Homo sapiens: one gene and its partners. The protein of the gene in region 7 interacts with the protein of the main gene of each other region in a pairwise test. Each region holds a gene or a part of one and is shown on either strand. Other genes may lie near its edges. The genes, in order: PNLIPRP1, CDS2, TSPO, SLC13A3, GOSR2, TF and LEUTX.

Evidence for each region.
Region 1: the proteins of LEUTX (region 7) and PNLIPRP1 interact in binary tests that used the Homo sapiens proteins (3 or more experiments, as listed by UniProt).
Region 2: the proteins of LEUTX (region 7) and CDS2 interact in binary tests that used the Homo sapiens proteins (3 or more experiments, as listed by UniProt).
Region 3: the proteins of LEUTX (region 7) and TSPO interact in binary tests that used the Homo sapiens proteins (3 or more experiments, as listed by UniProt).
Region 4: the proteins of LEUTX (region 7) and SLC13A3 interact in binary tests that used the Homo sapiens proteins (3 or more experiments, as listed by UniProt).
Region 5: the proteins of LEUTX (region 7) and GOSR2 interact in binary tests that used the Homo sapiens proteins (3 or more experiments, as listed by UniProt).
Region 6: the proteins of LEUTX (region 7) and TF interact in binary tests that used the Homo sapiens proteins (3 or more experiments, as listed by UniProt).

Annotation. Positions count from the first base shown.
Region 1 is NC_000010.11:116,604,459-116,607,958, forward strand, and holds part of PNLIPRP1 (inactive pancreatic lipase-related protein 1 precursor), read left to right. Parts: intron 1-683; exon of another isoform or gene 684-927; coding exon 928-1,095; exon of another isoform or gene 1,096-2,445; intron 2,446-3,500. UniProt on the Homo sapiens protein: May function as inhibitor of dietary triglyceride digestion. Lacks detectable lipase activity towards triglycerides, diglycerides, phosphatidylcholine, galactolipids or cholesterol esters (in vitro).
Region 2 is NC_000020.11:5,133,508-5,137,007, reverse strand, and holds part of CDS2 (phosphatidate cytidylyltransferase 2), read right to left. Parts: intron 1-3,500. UniProt on the Homo sapiens protein: Catalyzes the conversion of phosphatidic acid (PA) to CDP-diacylglycerol (CDP-DAG), an essential intermediate in the synthesis of phosphatidylglycerol, cardiolipin and phosphatidylinositol.
Region 3 is NC_000022.11:43,154,559-43,158,058, reverse strand, and holds part of TSPO (translocator protein), read right to left. Parts: exon of another isoform or gene 2,121-3,500; intron 1-2,120. UniProt on the Homo sapiens protein: Can bind protoporphyrin IX and may play a role in the transport of porphyrins and heme. Promotes the transport of cholesterol across mitochondrial membranes and may play a role in lipid metabolism, but its precise physiological role is controversial.
Region 4 is NC_000020.11:46,648,660-46,652,736, reverse strand, and holds the start of SLC13A3 (Na(+)/dicarboxylate cotransporter 3), read left to right. Parts: upstream 1-1,277; 5' UTR 1,278-1,315; coding exon 1,316-1,426; intron 1,427-4,077. UniProt on the Homo sapiens protein: High-affinity sodium-dicarboxylate cotransporter that accepts a range of substrates with 4-6 carbon atoms, such as the citric acid cycle intermediates succinate and alpha-ketoglutarate (2-oxoglutarate), as well as other compounds including N-acetyl-L-aspartate.
Region 5 is NC_000017.11:46,926,160-46,929,659, forward strand, and holds part of GOSR2 (Golgi SNAP receptor complex member 2), read left to right. Parts: intron 1-3,360; coding exon 3,361-3,425; intron 3,426-3,500. UniProt on the Homo sapiens protein: Involved in transport of proteins from the cis/medial-Golgi to the trans-Golgi network.
Region 6 is NC_000003.12:133,752,893-133,756,392, forward strand, and holds part of TF (serotransferrin isoform 1 precursor), read left to right. Parts: intron 1-702; coding exon 703-811; intron 812-1,602; coding exon 1,603-1,779; intron 1,780-2,470; coding exon 2,471-2,603; intron 2,604-3,389; coding exon 3,390-3,445; intron 3,446-3,500. UniProt on the Homo sapiens protein: Transferrins are iron binding transport proteins which can bind two Fe(3+) ions in association with the binding of an anion, usually bicarbonate.
Region 7 is NC_000019.10:39,781,854-39,784,322, forward strand, and holds part of LEUTX (paired-like homeodomain transcription factor LEUTX), read left to right. Parts: intron 1-2,469.

The DNA of each region.
Region 1 (3,500 bases), on a different chromosome or scaffold from region 7:
TACAGCCTAGGTATGTAGTAGGCTGTGCCATCTACGTTTGTGTGAGTACATGCTATGATGTCCACACAATGATTAAATTACCTAAGGACACATTTCTCAGAACATATCTCCATTGTTAAGCAACGCAGGACTATATAACTTTATGTACTGATGTTAATTGCAGACTTCTGCTAATAATTTTTCTTTTCTGTTATAAACCTAGGCATTTCGTCCTTTCTCTCTCTTTTTTTTTTTTTTTTTTTTTTTTGAGAAAGAGTCTTTGCTCTGTCACCCAGGCTGGAGTGCAGTGGCACGATCTTGGCTCATTGCAACCTCCGCCTCCCGGGTTCAAGAAATTCTCGTGCCTCAGCCTCCCAAGTAGCTGAGATTACAGGCATGTGCCACCACACCTGGCTGATTTTTGTATTTTTAGTAGAGATGGGGGGCGTTTTGCCATGTTGGCCAGGCTGGTCTCGAACTTCTGACCTCAAGTGATCCACCCATCTCGGCCTCTCAAAGTGCTGGGATTACAGACGTGAGCCACCATGCCCGGCCTCTTTCTCTTAATAGATGTTTTTTTAAACATAAATCTAATATTACTTCAGATATGCTGTTTTCTGATTAGTGCAATAACACATGCTTATTGTGCCATACTATGTGGCCAATTTGTTACTGTACAAATAATTCTTCCAAAACATATAAAATGATATGCAGGAATTCTATTTTATTTTCTATTAGAAAGCTTTAAGGAAAAATTAACTTGAGTTTTAAAAACCATAGTTTGAGGTGCTAGCATATAGCTGGCTTTTCCATTTCTCCATCCTTTATTTGGAAATTAATTCGGAAAAATAATCCTGTTAATCTAGAAGAGAAAACAGCAGCCTGGCATTGTATGGTAATTAGAACTCATTTCCGTGAACAGGGATGTTTATGTTTCTCTATTTCAAGGGGGATTCTCAAACCAGGCTCAACCCATTCCTATGAGTTTGATGCAAAGCTGGATGTTGGAACAATTGAGAAAGTCAAGTTTCTTTGGAATAACAATGTGATAAATCCAACCCTCCCCAAAGTGGGTGCCACCAAGATCACTGTGCAAAAGGGAGAAGAGAAGACAGTGTATGTATCTTTGCTGGCTGGTGCCTAAAAATGTTTGCAGAGATTCATGTTATAATGAAAACCCACCCTAGAAAGTTACGTGTAGTTAAGCAAGAAAAGCCAAGAAAATTTACCCATCTGTGGCCCCTTCTCCCCAAACAAGCAACTGACAAACAGCATAAAATGTTTCTGTTGGGTGCACCTTATTGGGTGTTCTCAGCACTGCCTGTGGGAATACAGAAGATAAGGCTGCACTTTCAAGGTAAAATGAGAAAATACAAGAAAGAGAACAAGAAATCCTTTCTGAAGGGTACAAGTTTATAAGTATGGGCTAGTGAATAGCTATACTTGAAAGAGGAGAAGACCAATTACATTTCAGGATAATAAAACGGAAAATAAATCGGTTTTAGGAAAAGATCGAAAATTTTACATAGGACAAGAATGCACTAGGATTGCAATACTTGTGAGATCCTGACCTGTGGTCTCCCTGGCTTTGGGCCTGAATAAGCACAGGGCCGTGGGTAGGAAAAAGGGACGGCTGGAGGAAAGTTGGAGTGGTGACCTGAGAGGGCAGAGCGACTGTCTCTCAAACCTCAGACCCCAAGTCTGGCTAGTAGAACATGTGGCTTTGTGGGAAGGAGATCCTGGGCTCTCAGCCACCGATGTTCTTGAAGTTTGGGGTTAGGTGGAGTCACCGAGTTCAGGTCCCAGAGATTGTCACTCCCCCAGGTGGGGAGGGTGGGGTGGCAGAGTAGAATGGGGGCTGACTCCACATCTGGGTCTCCTCGAACTGGATGACTTAGTGAGGTTCTCCTTATCCCCACGAGGCAAGGAGAACAAAGAGGTTGGCCCTGCCAGGTGGTGGGTGGAACCAGGAGGCCTCATAAGCTAGAGCATAGTACAGAGGAGGCTGGGCCGGGCTGGTCGGGAGCCCTGTGCAAGCTGGAGGTGCAACCAAATCCTTTCCTCCCTGACCCCATCAGAGGATACTCAGCCTCTAAATTCAGCTCCCCAAGGCCCCATTAGCAAGCATCCCATGGCCTGGATCCTGGGACTGTGTGGTTAAAAACATGTCAGGTGGTGGCATCATTGGAATCTTAAAAATTAGAGGTGTTCCCAGGAGATGACTTGCTCACAGGTAAGGCATACAAGTCCAAATCAGCCAGGGCATTGCATCTTCCAGGTTTTCTGAGGAAAGGCTGAGGCTTTCTGAACTTTCTGCAAATGGAACAGAACATACTTAAGGCTGCACCTGAGGTCCTGTGCCCATCAGCTGTCACCTGCATTCCAGTGGCTGAGTGCAGCTCCCCTCGCTGTCTGCTCCAGAAAGACTCTTTCTTAAGAGCAGCTGGATATAAGACATCAGGTTTTCTAAACAGAGGAAAGTCAAAACAGCTTCAAATCTCTCAAACTAGTTTGGGAAGTAAAAACACTGAATTAGTTGAATTACTCAAACATTTTCCTGTTATGAAAATGGCCAGTAACATTTAATAATAATAATAATAATAATAATAATGAAGAAGCTAAAGAAAATCAAGATTTTGGTCCAAGCTCTTCTCAGAATCCCCTCATATTTTTTAGTAACCTCATTGGGGTTTCAATTCCTACTAAGGAATCTGCCGACTAGGATTCCCTCCAATGACACAGTATCCAAAGAGAAAGGCAGCCCTCCCCCTCTTTATTTCTCCGTCCCCCTCTCTTTATTAAGTACCTTTGGTAAATGTACCCTTGCAAATGACTTTATTCAGTACCTATTGTATGGCCTGGCAAACAGTAAGGGATGCAAACACTGAGCCTACACTCAAGGAGCTTACAGTTCAGCTGTTGAGAAAAATCAGACTTATGGTTCACAGGGAAGGTCAAAAGACCAAATAAAGAACTCCCAGGAGAGGCTCAGAAAGACAGTGGCCAAGGAGGAAAGCAGAGGGCCGCGGGGAGGCTGTGATGGAAGGAAGGGCAGCTCTCAGGATGAGGCAGGGAGTAGGAGGGAGGAAGGGCACAGGGGCAGGGCAACAGGTCCAAGTGCATGAGGGGCGACAGGGCCCAAGTGCAGGGAATATGATCGGAGGCCTCCGATGCCAAGTTAGGGCTTCTTGGCAGAAAAAATGAAACACAGAAGAGAAAGTGGGAAGGGGCCAAGGAACACCAGTGAGGAAATGGGGCAAAGCTTCCGAGCTCACAGGTGGTGAGGCCTGAGAGAAGTCCGTGGTTCTTGAACAACCACAAAAATAACTGCTTACATCTGCATTGTTTTTTGTTAATTGTAAGACTTTTTACATTTACCATCATGGGATGTTACGTTCTTATCATGGAATTCTCAACAGTCGTGGGAGAATGACTGAGATGGAATCTCGCTCTGTTGCCCAGGCTAGAGTACAGTGGCATGATCTCAGCTCCACTGCAACCTCCACCTCCTGGGTTCAAGA
Region 2 (3,500 bases), on a different chromosome or scaffold from region 7:
ACTGGGAGCTACACATGGACACAAAGAGGGGAACAAGAGACACCAGGGCTTGAGGGTGGAGAGTGGGAGGCTGGTGAGGATTGAAAAACTACCCATCTAGTACTATGCTCACTACCTAGGTGACAAAATCATTTGTACACCAAACCTCAGCAATGTGCAATTTGCCCGTGTACCAAACCTGCACATGTATCCCCTGAACCTAAAACAAGAATTGGAAGGAAATGAGAGACAGAAGACTACAAAGGATCTTAAAGTTTAAGCATTATGAAAAAGAGCCAGAATTCTATCACTCCACCCCACCCCCCCAATAATTATTAGGGCAGTTTCAGAACTCCTGAAAGATACAAAGAACAAGATGGATTAGGAGGGACCTAGAGCAAATCCTAACAGGAGGGAGCTCAATTCACAGGGTTTACAATAAGGCAAGCAATAAATCCTGAAATTTGGGAAATCTCAAAGAGTAAAAGACAGATAAGGATTCCAGGAGAGGTAAGGAATTCGGATTTAGGATACTGCAGGCATTTACAATACTGCAGTCCTGAAATGTTGAAGTCTCCAAGAGCAACAAACAGACAACAAACAACAAACAGATAAGGATTCCAAGTCACACCTGGTTAGAATCTGCATCCTGCCCTGGGCACGGGAACAAAGGAATAGGAGATTTCAAGCCTGAGTAACCGAGTCATCTGGGATTTTATCGCAGAAGAAAGAAACTGAAGGAGGGTGGTAAGAGTAGAATGAGAGAATTCAGATTTGAGACAAAGTCAGTTTGTGTGGACTGAAGGGCATGCACCTAGGAATGTCTTGTAGACCACTGAAACCACAGGACTAGCCAGGCATGGACTGTGGAGATATGGCTCTGAGAGTTGCCCACTCAGGGGTTCGGTGTCAATGGCAGACATCCTCTCCACATCAGAGACCCAGGGGCAGAGAGTGTTGCCCGTAAATCCCAAGTCCCAGGAACTCTCAAAACCTCAGCAAAGTCTTTACAGAGAAGCCCCAAGCTGGCCCTATGGAGACCTTAATACAAAGGAGCTTCTGCCAAAGACAACAAATCAAAAAGATGTCTGACTTTGGTAGGACAGGTCAGGTCCTTCCACACAGACAGCAGTGCTCATGAGAACCACAGTGTGGCATGAGGCTGTCCCTGGGGAGAGGCAGGCGGGAGAAAGGAAACTTCACAGAATACCCTTTGCTGCCTACAAATTCTGCACCACAGACTGCCTACTCAAAATAACACCATAAAGTTTAACTTTCTTCAAAAGGTCAGTCAACTTAGTGGGCTCAATGCCATCCCTACTGTTGGGGCAAACAACATGAGAACAAATATCAGTGACTGGCATAGGAAGCTGCCCGGTGGGGACCATACGTGGGGGTGGGGAGGGGGTGCCTCACTATTACCCCAGCCAAGTAACCACCACATGACAAGACTTGGAAGGCAGGAACCCTGCCCAGTGCCAGGAACAAATTAGCATTCTTTCAAGGAGACTTTGGCAAAATTAATAGTGAAGAGTCAGTGTCCGTCTCTTTTCTGAACCAGAGGCAGTATGACACACAAACAGCTGTACTTTTTCACCCCCAACAGCCTCTAGTGCCAGTCCAGAAGGGCTGGGAGACCTTAACAACATAGAATGTAGCTTAACAAACTGTGGAGAGGAATCTCCTCCACCTACGTGGATCCTAGAAAAGATGGAAAAGTGTGAAAACCAGAAACAGTAACACTCAAATCTTTTCAAACAGTTTAAAGGATGATTATCTGCCCTGTGAAATTAGTTACAATGGCCGGGCACGGTGGCTCACGCTGTACCAGCCCTTTGAGAGGCCGAGGCGAGAAGATCGCTTGAACCCAGGAGTTCAATGGTCAACATTTTAAGACCCTGTCTCTATTATAAAATAAGTATGTATATATTTATATATATAAATTCAAAAAAGAAATTAGTTACAAGATTCATTTTAAAAAGAGTTTCTCAAATATATTCAAGATTATATAATTTCTGGCAGTTGTAAGGTTGAGAATAAAGTGAGGGAGGAGAAATGCTTTACATTAGTAGGACAGTGCAGGTTTTATACAATCTTCTTGTTTATCAAACATATTCTGAATGATTTTATCAAGTATTATGTTCCCATATCCATCAGCTGTTAGACTCTCATGCTCATTTTCTACCTTACCAATTTAAATATGCAGTCGGCTGGGTACGGTGGCTCATGCCTGTAATCCCAGCATTGTAGAAGGCCAAGGCAGGCAGATCACCTGAAGTCAGGAATTTGAGACCAGCCTGGCCAACATGGTGAAACCCTGTCTCTACTAAAAATATAAAAATTAGCTGGGTGTGATGGTGGGCGCCTGTAATCCCAGCTACTCGGGAGGCTGAGGCAGGAGAATCACTTGAACTCGGGAGGCAGAGGTTGCAGTGAGCTGAGATCACGCCATTGGACTCCAGCCTGGGCAACAAGAGAGAAACTCCATCTCAAAAAATAAATAGATAAATAAAAATAAAACTCTTAAATATTATTGATTTAAAAAAGATTGTATTATTTCTTTAAATCAGTAGGGAAAAAATTGATTATGTGGAGTCAAAACAGGCAATAAAATTCTGAATAATATCCTTATGAACACTGATAACACCAGCCCCTCTCAGAAATACAGACACCGTCCATAGCAGACCCTACAGTCAGTGAATGTTCTAAAGAGAAGCGTTGAATACTGAATGACTGCTTATTACTAGAACAAATGGTTCTCATGCTAACAGTCATTAACTGGAAAGCATTTCTTCCAAGCACCCTCACCCACTGCCTGGGTAAGGCGCCTTGTGGTCTTCAAGCACTGCGCCGGGAGTGCCTTTCAAGGATACCAGAGTGGCCACTCCCAGGAAAGTGCTCACAAATGTCTAAATCACAGTCATCCGATAACCAGGAAAACTGAAACTAATCAACTTTCTCTATAAAACACATACATTTTTTTCTGCAAAGAGTCTCCACATTTACTCTGAGACCTTTTTAACATTTAACATTTTGAAAGATTTATATAGTATTTTTTTGATTTTGTAGCCAAATAAGAAAAATAGGTAACATTTGGGTATCATATCTATCAATGTTAATCAATAAAGAAGCTTTTAAAGTCTGTAAATTAATTCTATGAGAAAAAAATAAAAAACAACAACCGGGAATTAGAAGACCTTCATAGGCCAGGCGCGGTGGCTCACGCCTGTAATCCCATCACTTTGGTAGGCCAAGGCGGGAGTATCACCTGAGGTCAGGAGTTCGAGACCAGCCTGACCAACATGGAGAAACCCCATCTCTACTAAAAATACAAAATTAGCTGGGCGTGGTGGCATGCCCGTAATCCCAGTTACTCAGGAGGCTGAGGCAGGAGAATTGCTTGAACCCAGGAGGCAGAGGTTGCGGTCAGCTGAGATTATACCATTACACTCCAGCCTGGGCCAACAACAGCGAAACTTCGTCTCAAAAAATAAATAAATAGAAGACCTTCATAATACGAA
Region 3 (3,500 bases), on a different chromosome or scaffold from region 7:
GCTGGCCTGGGATCCATGGAGCTGGGTGAGCACAGAAGCAACCTCAGTGCCCAGCAGCCAGGGACTATTAAAGACTGGCCCCCCACAAACCAAGCTTCTGAAGGCTTTCTAGTAACGAGAAAGTTGTTCTCAACATAACACGAAGAAAGCAGAATATAACATTGACTACAGAATGACCCCAATTTTGGCAAAAAATGGATAACATAGATATGCGCTTTTTTTGAGACAGAGTCTTGCTCTGTTGCCCAGGGTGGAATACAATGGCGCGATCTCAGCTCACTGTAACCTCTGCCTCCCAGGTTCAGGGGATTCTCCCGTCTCAGCCTCCTGCCTCCCAAGTAGCTGGGATTACCAGCATGTGCCACCATGCCGGGCTAATTTTTGTATTGTTAGTAGAGACAGGGTTTCACCATGTTGGCCGGGCTGGTCTCAAACTCCTGACCTGAGTTGATCTGCCTGCCTCAGCCTCCCAAAGTGCTGGGATTACAGGCGTGAGCCACCGCGCCCGGCACGTTTTAAAGGAACAGAGTGTCAGGCATCCAGCAGATTCCGGTGCTGCCACTTACTATGATTCCCTCCCCTCCCTGGACCTCAGTTTTCTCGCCTGTTGAATGGGGACAGTTACCCCATCCCCCAAGGTCGCTGCAAAAATGAGCAGTAAGGATGGACATTCTGGGGGGGTGGGCATGTGACCTATGTCCCGGCAAGAAACGTTCCTGTGTTCTCCCTCCCGCTCCCTCCTGCCCCGCCCCTCCCTCCTGCCCCGCCCCGCCCTCCTGCCCCGCCCTCCAGCTTCCAGGGTACACGTGCTCATGGGGTGGGGATGGGGGTCTGATGTCACTACACATATGAAAGGCCACCCTCCCTGGGGCAGGAGGTACTGCTGAGCACTGGCCCTGCACCACCGCCAAGTGGATATGGAGCTCTGGACCACAGCCCTGGGACCACCTCCCAGCTCAGCCTCCCACTACATCCTCTCAGGTAAGCCCAGGCCAGCTCAGCCTACTGCTCATCTGGGCAACCAAGACATAACCGCTGCTCTGCTGGAGCCTGCGTGAGTCCACAGCTGAGTGACATTGTGGGGGAACCATAAGGAGCCTCGTTCAGCCTCCACTGGAAACGAGCCGGACCAGGGTGCCTGTACGTGCCTTTTCCCAGGACACCCTCAGTTGAGGCCCACCTGCCCCACACTAATGGCCTGCTCTCACTCACAGGTGTCCCTGTCCAGGCGAGCAAGGTTAATACCACCAGCATAAGACACGTGGACATCCCGAACCCCTTGATACGACATGGAAGCTGGTGCGCTTTCAGTGATGTTCATGCCACAAATGGAAACCCCCAGTGCAGGCGTGAGCCACCGTGCCCAGCCTAAAATTAACCGTTTTAAAGTGCACCATTCAGCAGCATTTGTATATTCCCAATGTTGTGCAACCACCCTCTGTATCAAGTTCCAAAGCATTTTCAACCCCTAAAAGAAACCCCGTATCCATCAGCAGTGGTTCCCCTCCCCCTCCCTCCCACCCCTGGCCGCCAGCAATCTGACTTCTCTCTGGGGACTTGCCCATCCTGGACATTTGGTATCAATGGAATCACGCAGTGTGTGGCCCTCGTGTCTGGCTTCCTTCACTGAGCGCCATGTTCTAGAGGTCCTCACCTTGTAGCACGTGGCAGAACTCCCCACGATTCTGTCACCTGGCTCCAGCACCCAGCCAGGGCCAGGCACACACTCGGTCCCCAGGAAATCACAATGGGACTCACCCAGTGTTCCCACTGACAGGGCCTTAGAGACCACCATCCAGGTCCCCCGTTGTATGGAACGAATAAAAGTCACAGAGGCATGGTGGCTTTCCCAAGGCCACAGCAAGAGAGCAGGGTCTGAAGCCAGTTCTGAGTCCCGTGCTCACACTCCCACCCCAGGCTGCCCCCTTCTCAGGCCTGGCTGTGGTTATGACCCACAGGGCCAAGGGGCTCAGAGGGTCTGCCCCACCAGAAAACAGGCGGTCAGATGCCCCACAAGGAGAAAGCCTGGTCGGGGGCGGGGAGTTTCCTAGGGCCTCTGGGGAACTGCCCAGCTCCTGAATTGCCCAAATGGGGAACAGGTGGGCAGGGGCGGTACCCACCATGATGAGTCATGCTGAGCCAGGCTAGGCAGGATCCAGATATCTGCTCTGGGATGAGTCCAGGGAAAGCTGGGGTGGGCCAGGCCAGGGGGCACACATGGCAGGGACAGGACTCAGGCTCAGGCAGAGGGGTGAAGCCACCTATACACCCTTTATTTGTCTCCTTCAGAAAGCGAATCGGGATCCAGACCTCGGCTCTGCCTCCATCCAAGGCTCGTCTCTGGGCCTGGCTTCCTCCAACGTCAGGTGGGTAAACCCGCTGTGTCTGCTTCTTGGGGGGCTGGGGTAGCTCAAGGGAGGAAGGGGTGGGACAACAACGTTTCCCTGAAAACTCCAGAGAAGAGAGGGGTTGTGGGTATCAGTGTGGGGCCACTAGCCCCATTTCCTCCAGGGGAAGACAGGGCCTCAAGGCTTGGACCTGTGACGAGACCTTATCAGCCACGAGAGCCCCTGGACACTCCACAGGTGAAAATGCCCTGCACGGAGCAGCGCCCCCAAAACAGGGGCAAGATCGGGGCAGGGTAGAGGGCGCAGGACGTAGAGGCAGGAGAAGGTTCCAAGCCTTGCTCAGCTCTGGTTGTGCACAGGCCTCTGGTAGGCAGGGGCCTGCGTGGTGGAGTCCGTGCTCATCCCGACGGTCACCGCCTTGTTCAGTCCCCACAGCAGCCACAGGGGACCAGCTGCTTCTCCCTGAGCCACACGGCCCACTCGGCCTCCATGGTGGACTCGTGACTGGTCCCATTTTCCAGATGAGGAAACTGAGACATGAGAAGTCACAGAACTTTCTAGGTCCGAGTGACTCCAAAACCCACCCCACCCCTCCCTTTGAGCTGGGTGTCTGCCGGGCTGCTCTGGGCCGCGTGACCACTTGCCAGGAGTTGTGTCACCGCCCGTCTCAGCCTCCTTCCTCATCTGAAACAGGGCTCATAGAGCCTGCGGCGCCAGGATTGGACCCGCAGGCCACTCCACCCCACCTCTGAACGGTGCCAGAAGGTTCTCTCAGGGCCAGTAGCATCACTCTCTCCACCTGCCGCGGCAACATCCCAGCCCCCACAGAGCATCGGGCCCTGCAGAATCTGAGCCCTTCCCCACTGAGGGTGGGACCCAGGGTCTCCAGGTCTTGTGAGGCTTCACTCCTGGCCCGAAGACCCCAGACCCATCGCTGCCCCAAGGTATCTCATCTCCTGAGCCTCTGTGTCCCCATCTATGAGGTGGTGGTCGAGCCAGTGGGTTTCAGGGTGTCTTTCTGTTCTTGGAGACCTCCCTATAGGTGACCCAGAAGGCCAGGAACGGTGGCTCACACCTGTAATCTCAGCACTTTGGGAGGCTGAGGCAGGCAGATCACCTCAGGTCAGGAGTTCGAGACCAGCCTGGCCAACA
Region 4 (4,077 bases), on a different chromosome or scaffold from region 7:
AATAGAAGTGACTCACCCCCCTTAAAAAAAAATAAGAATAACGGCCGGGCGTGGTGACGCACACCTGTAATCCCAGAACTTTGGGAGGCCCGAGATGGGCGGATCATGAGGCCAGGAGTTCGAGACCAGCCTGGCCAAAATGGTGAAACCCCATCTCTACTAAAAATACAAAAAAAAAAAAAAAAAAAATTAGCCAGATATGGTGGCACACGCCTGTAATCCCAGCTACTCAGAAGAATTGCTTGAACCCGGGAGGCAGAGGTTGCAGTGATCCGAGATCGCTCCACTGCTCCCCAGCCCAGCCTGGGTTACAGAGTGAGACTACATCTCAAAAAAAAGAAAAAAAAACCCAAAAATAAGAATAACTCATCAGCAGCAATAACTCTCATTGAGCACCTGCTCTGCCAGACACTGCGCTAATCACATTACATGTGTTATCTCATTTAAACTTCCTAACAACCTTCTTGTCTGGTGTAGACTATTTTTAAAAATTTAACTTTTAAGTTCAGGGGTACATGTGCAGATTTGTTGTATAGGTAAACTTGTGTCATGGGGATTTGTTGCACAGATTATTTCGTCATCCAGGTATTAAGCCTAGTGCCCATTAGTTATTTTTCCTGATCCTCTGTCTCCTCCCACCCTCCAGCCTCCCATAGGCTTCAGTGTCAGTTGTTCCCCTCTATGTGTCCATGTGTTCTCATCATTTAGCTCCCGCTTATAAGTGAAAACATGCGGCATTTGGTTTTCTGTTCCTGTGTTAGTTTGCTAAGGATAATGGCCTCCAGCTCCATCCATGTTCCCGCAAAAAACATGATGTCCTTCTTTTTTGTGACTGCATAGTATTCCATGGTGTAGACTATTATTATCACCACTCCACTTTCAGGCTCAGAGGCTGTTGTTGAAGGCCACGCAGTGAGTAAGTGGCCGTGCCAGGATTTGAACCCGGGTAATAGGAGTACGCGCCTTAATCCTCGCCTTGTCATCCTCAGCCATCTCACAGGCGAGTAAACAGAGGCGAGGAGAGGATAAGCCAGCTGCCCCAGGCCACATTGCTGGGAAGCCAAGAGGCAAGGCCACACTGCCCTGCGGCTGGGGTCCCGTTTGCTAATTCTAGTGCCTAACTTTCTCCAACGTTCCCGGGCCTCTTTCACCCGGTCCCAGGGGCGCAGGCACCACCCTTTTCCTCCAGGAGGAGCAGGGAGAGGGCGGGTTCCCCAGCGCAGTCCCCTCCCCGACCCTCCCCCAGGCTTTAAGCCGGCGCCGGGGCCAGGCGGGGCAGTCCCGGGCCGGCCCGTACCGCCAGGCGATCGCGCTGATGGCGGCGCTGGCAGCAGCGGCCAAGAAGGTGTGGAGCGCGCGGCGGCTGCTGGTGCTGCTGTTCACGCCGCTCGCGCTGCTGCCGGTGGTCTTCGCCCTCCCGCCCAAGGTAACGCCTCCTCCGCCTGTGCGCCCCCGGTCAACCACAGGCGGGATCCTCTTCTCCCAAGCCTCCAAGTTGGGAGACCGCTGAGGTCCCAGTGTAGACAGGCTCCACCAGACCCCCTCGCCTTCCCTCCCTTGCACCTGCCGCGGACCGCTGTGAACGCTCCTAACGCCTCTTCCCTCTTCCCAGCTGCTCCTTAGAGCTTGAGTCCCACCCTGCCTTCTGGATCTCACTTCCATGGGAATAATTTCGTTTCGTTTCAGTGACAGGTTCTCGCCGGTCACCCAGGCTGGAGTGCAGTGATGTGATCATAGCTCACTGCAGCCTCCAACTCCTGGACTTAAGCGATCCTCCTTCCGCAGCCTCCCTAGTGGCTAGAACTACAGGTGCATGCCCAGCTAATTTTTTTTTAATAGAGATAGGGTCTCACTATGTTGTCCAGGCTGGTCTGGAACTCCTGGACTCAAGCAATTCTCCCACCTTGGTCTCCCATATACTGGGATTACAGACGTGAACCACTGTGCCTAGCAGAATTCTTTCTTTCCTGAGCTCTAATTCTGTGCTTGGTGCTGTATTGCACATTTCACGCGACAGTCACAATGAACACTTACTGGGTGCCAAGCTGTGTGACATGGTGCAAGTCACTTAACCTCTCTGAACTTCAGTTTACTCATGTGTAAAAATGGGAGAAATGATAGTGCCCACCCATAGGGCAGCGGTGAATATCAATGAGGCAATATATGTAAATCTCTTATAACTAAACCTTGTACAGAATAAATGCCCAATAAGCAGTGACTGGTCTTTTTCTGCACCAGGTCCTTACGTGATGAGGACGGTAAGATTCATGAGTGCTTACTACGGGTGAGGATTTGCCTTTTGTGTATCACTTTATTTAATCATTTCAACGCGTCTCAGAGGGGAAAGATTATTTGACCCATTTTCCAGAGGAGAAAACCAAGGCTCGGGGAGAGAAAGTGACTTGCTCAGAGTCACACAGCAAGTGACTATGTCGGTATTCAGTCCCCGGCTTGTCAGAATCCAGAACCCTAGCTGTTTTCAGTCTCCCCAAGGAAGTAACCCCTGTAAGATCAAAGGCCGCAGGTGGAGTTCAGGAGTCATAACTGAAATCAACACTAGTGGGGGCTGGAAGGAGATGGTACCACAGGTCCCTTTTGGGTTCTTCACCTGTGCCCTGCCCAGCCCAGCCAGGGCATCATGAGAGGGCACTGGGCTTGTAAGATAAGGCTTCTACCTCCAGGAAGTTGCTTCACCATCTCTCAGTGAGGTATTAAATGTTCACAAAAATAAAAGTAAAGAGGAGGTATAATTTAGTGGTGCATTACCCAGCACCGATCAGCTGAGACCAGGGAGCTTCTCCTGGAAGAAGGAGCCCTCCTTGGGCACATGGAGTAAGAAGGTGACACCAGTGGTTCCAAGGAGACCCAGGGCTAACACACAGCAAGTTCATTAGTGTGGAATTATCTAAGCTATTAGACTTTCTCGACGTGGAAGAGAAAAACACAATAAATGATGGAAGAAGGATGAGGTCACCTTTGCAAAACTCAGCCCACCCCAGGCCACTTTCTGACCTGTGGATCTTAAGATCTTGGACCAATCTCCTTTCCTCTTTGGGTTTTGCTTCCCTGTAAGTGGAGCGATTACACCGCTAGCTTCTGGGATTGATGTGAGAGGTTGAGTAAGGCTTTGTGAAACATCTTTGGTGGAAGTGTGGGTGGCTGAGCCTTGACTGATTGCTGTCTGCGAGGCCATAGGCAGAGCTCTCTGGCAAGAAGAGATAAAACACAAGGTCTCTATTCTCTCAGTAGGGGTCCCGACAGCTTCTCTCTGCTCTGTTCTCTAGCAAGAACATGAACCCAGGAGCAGATCCAAGGGTTAAGGGGCGGGGAGCATTTACTACTTGAGGGGGACTCTTGAAGAAAATGAATACAGATTTACAAATACAGGATTCGGTACGAGGCTTGGGAGAGGTCTGAAGCTTGAGCTTCACAAAGGATCCTCTTCCTATCTGAACTCCAACATGCACAACTGAATGGAAAGCAGGGAGAGATAACAGGGAGAGCCCCTGGGATGTAACTAATCCCTTATGATGGTGCTAAGCCTGATGAAGAAGGTGTTTTATTGAGTGCTTAGCTCTTACCATGTGCTAGGGGCCATGCTAGGAGCTTGTCAGGCTTGTCCCATGTAATGCCCACAACAACCAGAGAGGCAGCTGTTATTTGCATCCCTATTTGACAGGTGAAGAAACGGAAACTCAGCGGGGTTAGGTGACTTGCCTAAGGTTACACAGCTGCTGCAAAGCCAGAATGCAGAGTCTGTACTCCTTTATGTGTGTGTGTGTGTGTGTGTGTGTATGTGTGTGTGTGTGTGTGTGTGTGTGAGAGAGAGAGAGAGATAGGGTCTTGCTCTGTAACACAGGCTGGAGTGCAGTGGCACGATCTTGGCTCACTGCAACCTCCACCTCCCAGGCTTAAGCCATCCTCCTGCCTCAGCCTCCCAAGTAGCTGGGACTATCAGCTCCTGTCACCACACCCGGCTAATTTTTATATTTTTAGTAGAGACGGGGTTTCACTATGTCACCCAGGCTGGTCTCAAACTCCTAGACTCAAGCGATCCACCAGCCTCGGCTACGCAAA
Region 5 (3,500 bases), on a different chromosome or scaffold from region 7:
CTTATCTCAAGACCATGTTTTTCCTTTATAGATTTTGCCCTTTAATGAGCGAAATGTAAAGGCAAAGTGAGTGAAATGAAAATGACCAGATTGTTGCCACTACTTTTAAGTAAAGTTAACAACAAACTTACATGATGCTGTGTAGGTTACACAGCGTTTTCATGTTCATCATGGTCAGAGGCAGCCTGGATGCAAAGTGGATGTTATGGGGTGGTGGGGGGCGGTGAGTAGTTTCATGAACTTTTAAAAAGCACTTCCATTAAAAAATTCTTCCTAGATCTTCTGTAAACCTTTTTTAAAGACGGCTACAATGACCCTGGCTTATTTGCTACTATTTCTCTGCTTTGTTATATTATCACCCAAGCCCACCATGGACCCCATGCTAGAGAGGGCTAAGACTTCTTTTTCCTCATGTCCACGCTCCCAAGTCATGCTTGTGTATCACCTGTTTCTTATGGACTTCCAGTGTGTTATGTTGTGTTAGAATTCCCAGTTCAGTTTGAGACAGATTTTGCACTTGGCATATTAGTAGTTCCCACCTTGCCATTCATACTTGCTTTGTTGTTTCATATTTATGTTTTCTTAGCATGAAATGTAGCCGCTGGAATTGTATTATTGGCCACATTGTCTCTGATTGGTTCAAAGCAAATAGAGATTTGATGGGAAAAGTCAGTGGATTATGGGCCTGTACAAAAGTGCTTTGATGAACGTCCTGCCATGTACATCTCCTCAGGGTATGCCAGAACCTCTCTAGGACACATTCCTCAAACTGCTGGGTCATAGCATGGACACATGCTTTATTCTACTAGTTATTGTCAGAAAGCATTTAAAGTGTTTTACCAATTTATAATCCTACCAGCTGGGTATGAGAGTTCTAGTTTCCCTGTTTCCTTATTAATGCATATGTCCCCAAACTTTAAAATATTTGTCAGTTTGATGGGCTGAAGAAATGTGATCTCATTGCTTTTCATTTGTGTTTTCCTAGTTGAGTGTCATTTTGTATATTGATTGACCATTTGGGTTTTCTTTTCTGTCATTTGCCCTTTTTTCATTTAAAAAAAATGCCTTGTTTGACTTTTTGTATTGATTTGTAACAATTCTTTATATATTTTCTGCACGTCAATCCTTTGTTATCTGCTGCAGATACCCTCCAGTCTGTGCCATTCATTTGTTTATTTTGTGGCTTTGGTGTACAGAAGTTTTTTGTTTTCATGTTGTCAGATGTATCCATCTTTTTCTTTGTGGTTTGTGGGTTTTGTGGGGGTGGGTAGTTTTTGGATTTTGTCTTATTTAAGAAATCTTCTGTAACCCGAGGTCATTTATGCACACCTGTATTTTCTTCAGAAAGTTTGAAAGCTGCTCTGCTTTTTCCATTTGGGTTTTAAGTGAGCTTGAGTTTATTTTTATGTGTTACCTGAGGTGGCCTTTTTCTGTACGGGTAACAAACCGGAGCTGTTGGCATTTATTGTAGTCCCTTCTTTCAAAAGCTCCCAAATAACGTGGGGCTGTGTCTAGGCTGTTTCTTTCCTCTTGGGCCAGCTGTAGGGTTTGCCTTTCCTTGTCTGTCTGCACCTGCACTGCCGCCATATTGTTTCCATTGTTACTGCTTTGTAAGTCATAATGGCAGGTGGGACAAGTCATTCCTCCCCCTCCTTCTTCAGAGTGGTCTTGGCTATTCTTTACCTCCCCCCTTTTTATTATGTCACTGTTCGTGTTGATCATATTACCAACTTTCAGATTTTTCTGTTAAATCAGCATTGAAAATTTACCTCACAGCCTGCGTCAGGACTTCCTTAGAGTCCTAATTCTCCTTTCTGTCCCCGTTACCCTCCGGTCCCCTGTACCTGTTCCCTTGGTTGCCCTGCTTCAGGTGTCGGCTACCTCAGGCTGCATTCCTACATCAGCCCCCATACCTCCACACCCCCGCATCATCCCACAATATCCCAGACTTACTTTCCGGAAGCAACGGCCTGGTCTCGGACTCTAGCAGTGATTTCTAGTTGCTTCTCAGGGCCACAGGTCTTGCCTAGGAGCACCCTGGGGAGTCATTTGACAGCTCACCCAGCTTCTTTTGGTGCCCGAGGGCATATCTGGAGGCCATAGGGAAGCCCTGGAAAAGACTGGGCACAAGCTGAAGCCAAAGTTGGGTGCCTGGCTGGCATTGGTAGATTTGGGGTCCTGGTTTGCATTGCTCACGATGCAGAATGGTTGCTGACCTTTCCTCCAGCGTTGGGGATGATGTGAGAGTCCAGCAGGCCCCCTTCATGTGGGCCCTAACTTGGGGAAATCTCCACCGTGAGCACCGGGAAGTGGATGGTGGGGCCAGCATAAGCAGTATCCCGAGGACTGATCATGGAGGACCATTAGGAAGGGGGTCTTAAGGATGACCTTGGCCAGACCGTGGGAAGCCTCCAGAGAGTGTTACCCAGATCCAGGGTACAGTGTTGCATTTCCAAATGAGATGGCAGTTCCTTCGTTCCTTGATATTGTCGGAGAAGGATGTTTACCAAACAGAAGGTCCCTGTCTCAGGGTCTTCCTCTGAATGGTTTCCTCCAGTGAGTCACTTCAGCATCCTCTCCCCCAACCCGATTCCCTTTCAAGCAGCCCACCCTACTTGTAATCCACATGTCTTGAATGAATTTTTGCATATCATTTTCTTCTATCTTCCTTCACCAAATGATGTCTCCCTTCTTCACAGCGATGCTCAGAACTCTTTCCATCCACATAACTTACCTGGTTTCTCTTTCTCAGCCCCACCCCTCTGTCTGCTTGCCTGTGACACCACTGTGCAGAGCTGCCCCTCTTTCTGTTTGTTTATACTTATGTGTATTGCTTTTCTCGTGAATCTTCCCAGGGCTTGTTCATGTCTGTTTAGCCTGTCATTCCTCATTATGTTGTTTCTCAAGGACAAGGATTATATCTCCCTCGCCCTTTGACTCTTCCTGGTACAGGCCAGTGCTTAGCACATTAGGTCGTAGAACAGAAAGTAGGATTGGCCGGGTTCAGTTTGAGGTTTATCACTTGCTGTGTGATCTTGAACAAGTTACATAACCTTTCTGGGCTTCAGTTTTTATAAAATGAGGATGATAATGGTACTTTCCTCATAGGGTTATTGATTTGGCAGAGTATCTTGGATATGGTAAGCACCCATAATCTGCCTATCAGTGTTATTGTTAGTAGTTAAGATATTAGAAACCATGCCAAAACGTGGGACCTAAAGTGCCACATACAAATTTTACAGTTCAGTGATGCTGTCGATTTAAATCAGTTACATGTTGGCATCAGAAAAATTGTCTTTCCTGACTGAAGCGCTGTTGATTACTCCTGTCTCACTCATTTCCTCCCTCTTCCTTTGATAGGCAGGTCCACGAGATCCAGTCTTGCATGGGACGCCTGGAGACGGCAGACAAGCAGTCTGTGCACAGTGAGTAATTAACTGTGGAGACCAGAGTCCTTTCTCTGATGACAGGGTGCTAATGGGCTGGGCTTCCTGACTGCA
Region 6 (3,500 bases), on a different chromosome or scaffold from region 7:
TTTGATCATTCAGTACATAGTATCACCAAGAAGCTAAACCCAGAGAAAGTGCCCAATCCCTCAGCAAAAGGGTCATGCAGTTTTATGGACCCAGGACAGGAAGGAAGAGCATTGAGTACTGAGTCAGAGTGAAGACGAATGTTTTCAAGGTTCCCATCTTCCCCCAGAAAAAAAATCTCCACAGAAGCACCTGAGGAAGACCTCAAAGGAAGTCTCAAAATAAAGAGGGCTCTGAGCAAAGGTCATGGGCTAGGAATGAAAACAGGTGTAAGAAGAGCGTGGCCAGCCCAAGAGAGCTGTGTCCTTGACAGCAGAGTCCCCTCCAGAGACTGCATTGCACTGGCTGTGCTCTGAGTCTGGGGTGGCGAGGGCGGCTTTCTCCCACGGAGCCTGCCAGGTTAAGCCTTCGTAATTGCCTACGGTAAAGTCACGTAGGATTTTTGGCCAGGAGCTGGGCACCTCACCGGGGAAAAGAGAAACACAATCCATCACTCCCTCTATGCAGAAGGAATAGGAATGTGGTGGCTAAGTGCCCTTGCGAGGGAGACAGAGTCAACTGAAGCCAGCAGGGCTGTGCGTGGTCTAGTCAAGTTCTGGCCCTGGGTCCGTGGAGTCCTGGTAGCCACTCTCTACTTGTGTGGGTTGAGGTGGGCCTTCCTTGGAAGTCAAGGCTTCATCCAGGACTGGCCTGTTCTCTTTCAGGCAAACGAAGCGGATGCTGTGACACTGGATGCAGGTTTGGTGTATGATGCTTACCTGGCTCCCAATAACCTGAAGCCTGTGGTGGCAGAGTTCTATGGGTCAAAAGAGGGTAAGTTCTCCCTGGGACCCCAGGAAGGAGTTGTCATCCTTATTCTATATGCTGAGTGCTGTGTTTTACAGGCAGGTTTTGGATATCAGATATAATGAACATTCATCTTTGGAGAGTGAGTAGAGAATGAGGGGCCCTGTCAGCTGCCACAGCCACACATCAAGGCCTCTGGGGGCTTTGGGCTGGCTGAGGACTGGTGCTCCTAAAACTGAGCCCTGGGCCAGGGGCATATGCTTATCAGAGAAACACAGCAGGCTGTGTGCAGCTTGACCTGAAGGCTACTGCGGTCTACTGATATGTCTAGGGTCCCTGGAGGCCTCTGGAGCCATAGGTACCACTCACACAGGAGGGGTCACTCTGGAGCACACACTCAGAGGCCAGCAGCCCTGCAAGTCTTCTGAGATCAACCTGACTGTCTCTGGGCCTGTGCCAGGGGACATGAAATACTTTGATGGGCCTCTGTTACCACAGCTCCAGTTTCCTGGTGGCTGAGGTTGGTAGGTGTAGGCAGACACGCTGCAGGGCCAGGGGAGGCAAAGCATTCAGGACACATGTGCGTGTGGCCTTCTTGCCCCTGTTTGCCTGGAGGGGTAATATTATAAATATTCCTTCTATGGTCTTCTCTCTCCCCTGCAACCCTAGGAAGGTTTTCCTGATTCCCCACTCCTTATCGCCCAGTCCAGTAAAAGCATGGCCTCTCCGCTCCCCTCCCTCCTCAAGAGTCCGGTGGTGATGAGCCATGTTTCCCTGCACCAGGCTGAGGGCCTTCCATTCACACTGTGCCTTTGCAGATCCACAGACTTTCTATTATGCTGTTGCTGTGGTGAAGAAGGATAGTGGCTTCCAGATGAACCAGCTTCGAGGCAAGAAGTCCTGCCACACGGGTCTAGGCAGGTCCGCTGGGTGGAACATCCCCATAGGCTTACTTTACTGTGACTTACCTGAGCCACGTAAACCTCTTGAGAAAGGTAAGCTGGCAGGAGTCTGGGTGCCCTCGAGCAGCTGCCTCTGCTCCAGATGCCCACACAGGCTGCACTAGACAGTCACCATCAGCAGACATGTGGGATGAACTCAGGTGGGGGAAAGAGGTTAACAGACTTTAAACTGGCAGGTCTGCTGCACCAGCAGCACTTGGGAGGTGGAGCTGAGCTTTTTTCTGCTCTGAGCTTCCAAAACCCCAGCAGAGGCTGTTCTGATGAGTGAGGAAAGGGCGCAAGGCTCGGCAGAGGGTTTCAGTCTAGGCGATGGTGGTTCTCTTGTCCACTTCTCTGGATTTCTTTCCTGGAGGTTTCTCTGGAGCCCTGCACCTCTCTTAAGCAGTTCTCATGTCTGGGGCATGGATCCCAGAGGGGACCTCTCTCTGAGCTGTTCCAGCCTCTGACAAAGCAGGGAGAAGGTGCTCTGAGAAAGACCCGAGATAGGCCTTGGTTAGTGGGAAGCATAGGCCTGTTTCCTCTGATGGATGGTGGCCAGACAGAGGTCAACTTGTTCCTATTAGAAATCCTTGATCTTGATGAGTTAGCATAAGGGCAAGCTGGGGCTGCATGTGCTGGTTTGGTTTTAGTCCCCTCTGTTCCCTGATGGGCCTGGGTGGGGTGATGCCATTGGCTGTGGCCAGCCTCACTCATGCTCTGTTGTCCATTTCTCTGTGCTGAGCAGCAGTGGCCAATTTCTTCTCGGGCAGCTGTGCCCCTTGTGCGGATGGGACGGACTTCCCCCAGCTGTGTCAACTGTGTCCAGGGTGTGGCTGCTCCACCCTTAACCAATACTTCGGCTACTCGGGAGCCTTCAAGTGAGTGAGATGTCTGCTGCTCCATGGTGGCCAAAGTGCCAAATGTCCTCAGGGTGAGAGTTCTTTGCTGGTCCAAAGCCGAGCCCTGCCTGCCTACAGGGGCATCGAGGTGGCCTAATCCCCTCCCAGTGAGTCAGAAGCACAACCTGGGACTCCTAGGCCAAGCCAGCCCATGTTCCCTTTCATCTGACCCTGACAAGTAGGTCCTTTTCCTGGGGACCCTTCCTTTCTCCCCAGAGCCCTCAAGCCTGGTCAGTGTCTCCTCTCGGTGGATCGGGCAGAGCCTGAAAGGACAATCATGCCTCTAGTGTCTGGGCCCACTGTCCAGGGACTGGCCCTCTTCCCTCAATCTCAGCAGTGTTACCTGCTCAGCACACTGCCTGTCTCCTGCCCCCATCACCGTCTCTATCTGGGAAGCTGATTTCTTGCTTTCTCTTTTTACCTTGATTATATCCTAAAGTTTTACAACCAGCCAAAGGCACATTTTCACCCTCAGGAGACACTATACCATTATCTTCTATTCCAGAAGTTTAAAAGCTCTTTTCACATGAAAATATCTTCAGTTGCATTTTGCTTCTTTGGGTTATGAGGGCTTTTTATCTCGTGTGAGCTCATTCCCCCATCTCAGCACTACGCTGGAGGTCTGCACACCATGGTGTTGCTTCAGCTACGGGGCTGCACCAGGCTCTATCCTAGTGTGAGTGCTGGACAGTGTGATCAGACTCTCCAGGTGCAGGAGAAGGGCCTGCCCTGCAGGAGCCCTGCTGATGTGTTTCTTTGACCCAGGTGTCTGAAGGATGGTGCTGGGGATGTGGCCTTTGTCAAGCACTCGACTATATTTGGTAAGAATGGGACAAGAATCCACCAGGGCCACTCCAAGTAGTGGGTGTTCTTTTT
Region 7 (2,469 bases):
TAACAGACTTGCTTCTTTGGTTACTCACATCTTCCCTAAAGGAGTGAGCTTTCTGGGACCATGTTATTGTTAAAGATACGGAGGCAAACAGTATAAGTGTACTGATGCTGCCAAAGTCACAGAGCTAGTAAATGAGAGAATCGACATTCATTCTTAGGTCACTAAGCTTCATATCTCCTTCCCTACAGACCCCATTAATAAATGGCCAAACCAATAGCTTCAGGGTCTCACAAGCCAATCAACATAGACAGCAGTGCCACTGAGTCTATGACCGGTTAGGATAATAGGGCCTCAAATACTCTTATGAATCTTATAGACTCATATAAACCTGGTGTCAACATCATGCCACTATTCTATTCTATCTCAATAAGGACTCACCCAAATCTCATCTTGAATTGTAGCTCCCATAATTCCCATGCGTTGTGGGAAGGATCCGGTGGGAGATAACTGAATCATGGGGCGGTTTCCCCCATACGGTGCTCATGGTAATGAATAAGTCTCATAAGATCTGATGGTTTTATAAGAGGTTTCCCCTTTTGCTTAGGTCTCATTCCCTCTCTTGCTTGCCACCACGTAAGATGTGGCTTTGCTCCTCCTTGCTTTCCACCATGATTGTGAGGCCTCCCCAGCCATGTGGAACTGTGAGTCCATTAAACTTCTTTCCTTTATAAATTACCCAGTTTCAGGTATGTCTTTATTAGCAGCATGAGAAACAGAAAGATGTCCCCAAGTTGCTAGGAAAACATATTGGTGCCCAATGTCATGGAGAGGTTGATGTTCCTCCTCCAGGGGCTGTAGGATGAGGCCACCAAAATAAGCTTATCCCATCTGTGGCTTAAAAACATGTCCTGCTCAGTGGAAGTTGGCACTGATTTTCTAGGAATGCAGAACACTCCCAGCAAGAGAGTGAGGAGTGGGTCTCGTGAGTCAAATGTTTAGCCTAAGCTCTTGATTCACAGGTCAAGCTTAGGAAAGAAGCTTACCTTTGGAATATACATATTTGCATTCTAATAAAACATTTTTAAATTTTTTTTTGTATTTTCGTAGGCTATTGGGGAACAAGTGGTGTTTGGTTACATGAGTAAGTTCTTTAGTGGTGATTTGTGAGATTTTGGTGCACCCACCAACCGAGCAGCATACACTGCACCATATTTGTAGTCTTTTATCCCTCACCCCCTTCCCACCCTTTCCCCCGAATCCCCAAAGTCCATTGTGTCATTCTTATGCCCTTACATCCTCATAGCTTAGCTCCCACTTATGAGTGTGAACATATGATGTTTGGTTTTCCATTCCTGAGTTACTTCACTTAGAATAATGGTCTCCAATCTAATCCAGGTTGTTACAAATATCATTAATTCATTTTTATGGCTGAGTGGCATTCCATCATATAATTTATATATATATAAATTATATATATATAAATTATAATATTTGTATTATATATAATTATATACAATATAATTTATATACATTATACATAAATTATTATATATATATACATATATATATATACACACACACACACACACACCACAGCTTATCCACTCAATTGATGGACATTTGGGTTGGTTCCACATTTTTACAATTGCGAATTGTACTGCTATAAACATACATGTGCAAGTATCTTTTTTGTATAATGACTTATTTTCCTCTGGGTAGATAGCCAGTAGTTGGATTGCTGGATCGAATGGTAGTTCTACTTATAGTTCTTGAAGGAATCTTTACACTGTTTTCCATAGTGGCTGTACTAGTTTACACTGCCACCAGCAGTGTAGAAGTGTTGCCTGTTCACTGCATCCACGCCAACATCTATTTTTTTTTATTTTTTTTATTATGGCCATTCTTGTGGTTTCGATTTGCATTTCCCTAATCATTTGTGATGTTGAGCATTTTTTCATGTTTGTTGGCCATTTGTATATCTTTTGAGAATTATCTATTCATGTCATTCATGTCCTTAGCCCACTTTTTGATGGAATTGTTTGGTTTTTTTCTTGCTAATTTGTTTGAGTTCGTTGCAGATTCTGGATATTAGTCATTTGTCAAATGTATAGATTGTGAAGATTTTCTTCTAGACTGTGGGTTGTCTAGAACTCTGCTGTTCCTTTTGCCATGCAAAATCTCTTTAGTTTAATAAAGTCCTAGCTATTTATCTTTGTTTTTATTGCATTTGCTTTTGGGTTCTTGGTCATTGTGTTGCTGTCTATCTCATTTCTTAGGTCTAGTGGATAAAAGGGCGTCCATTGTCTCCTAAAGTTTTTATTATTTTTTATTTATGCTCTCTATTTCACTGAAGATTTCTCCCCTCATTTCTTGTATCTTTTTTTTTAATTTCCTTAAATTGGGCTTCACTTTTCTCTGGTGCCTCCTTGATTAGCTTAATAACTGACCTTCAGAATTCTTTTTCAGGTATATCACGGATTTCTTCTTGGTTTGGATCCATTGCTGATGAACTAATGTGATTTTTTGGGG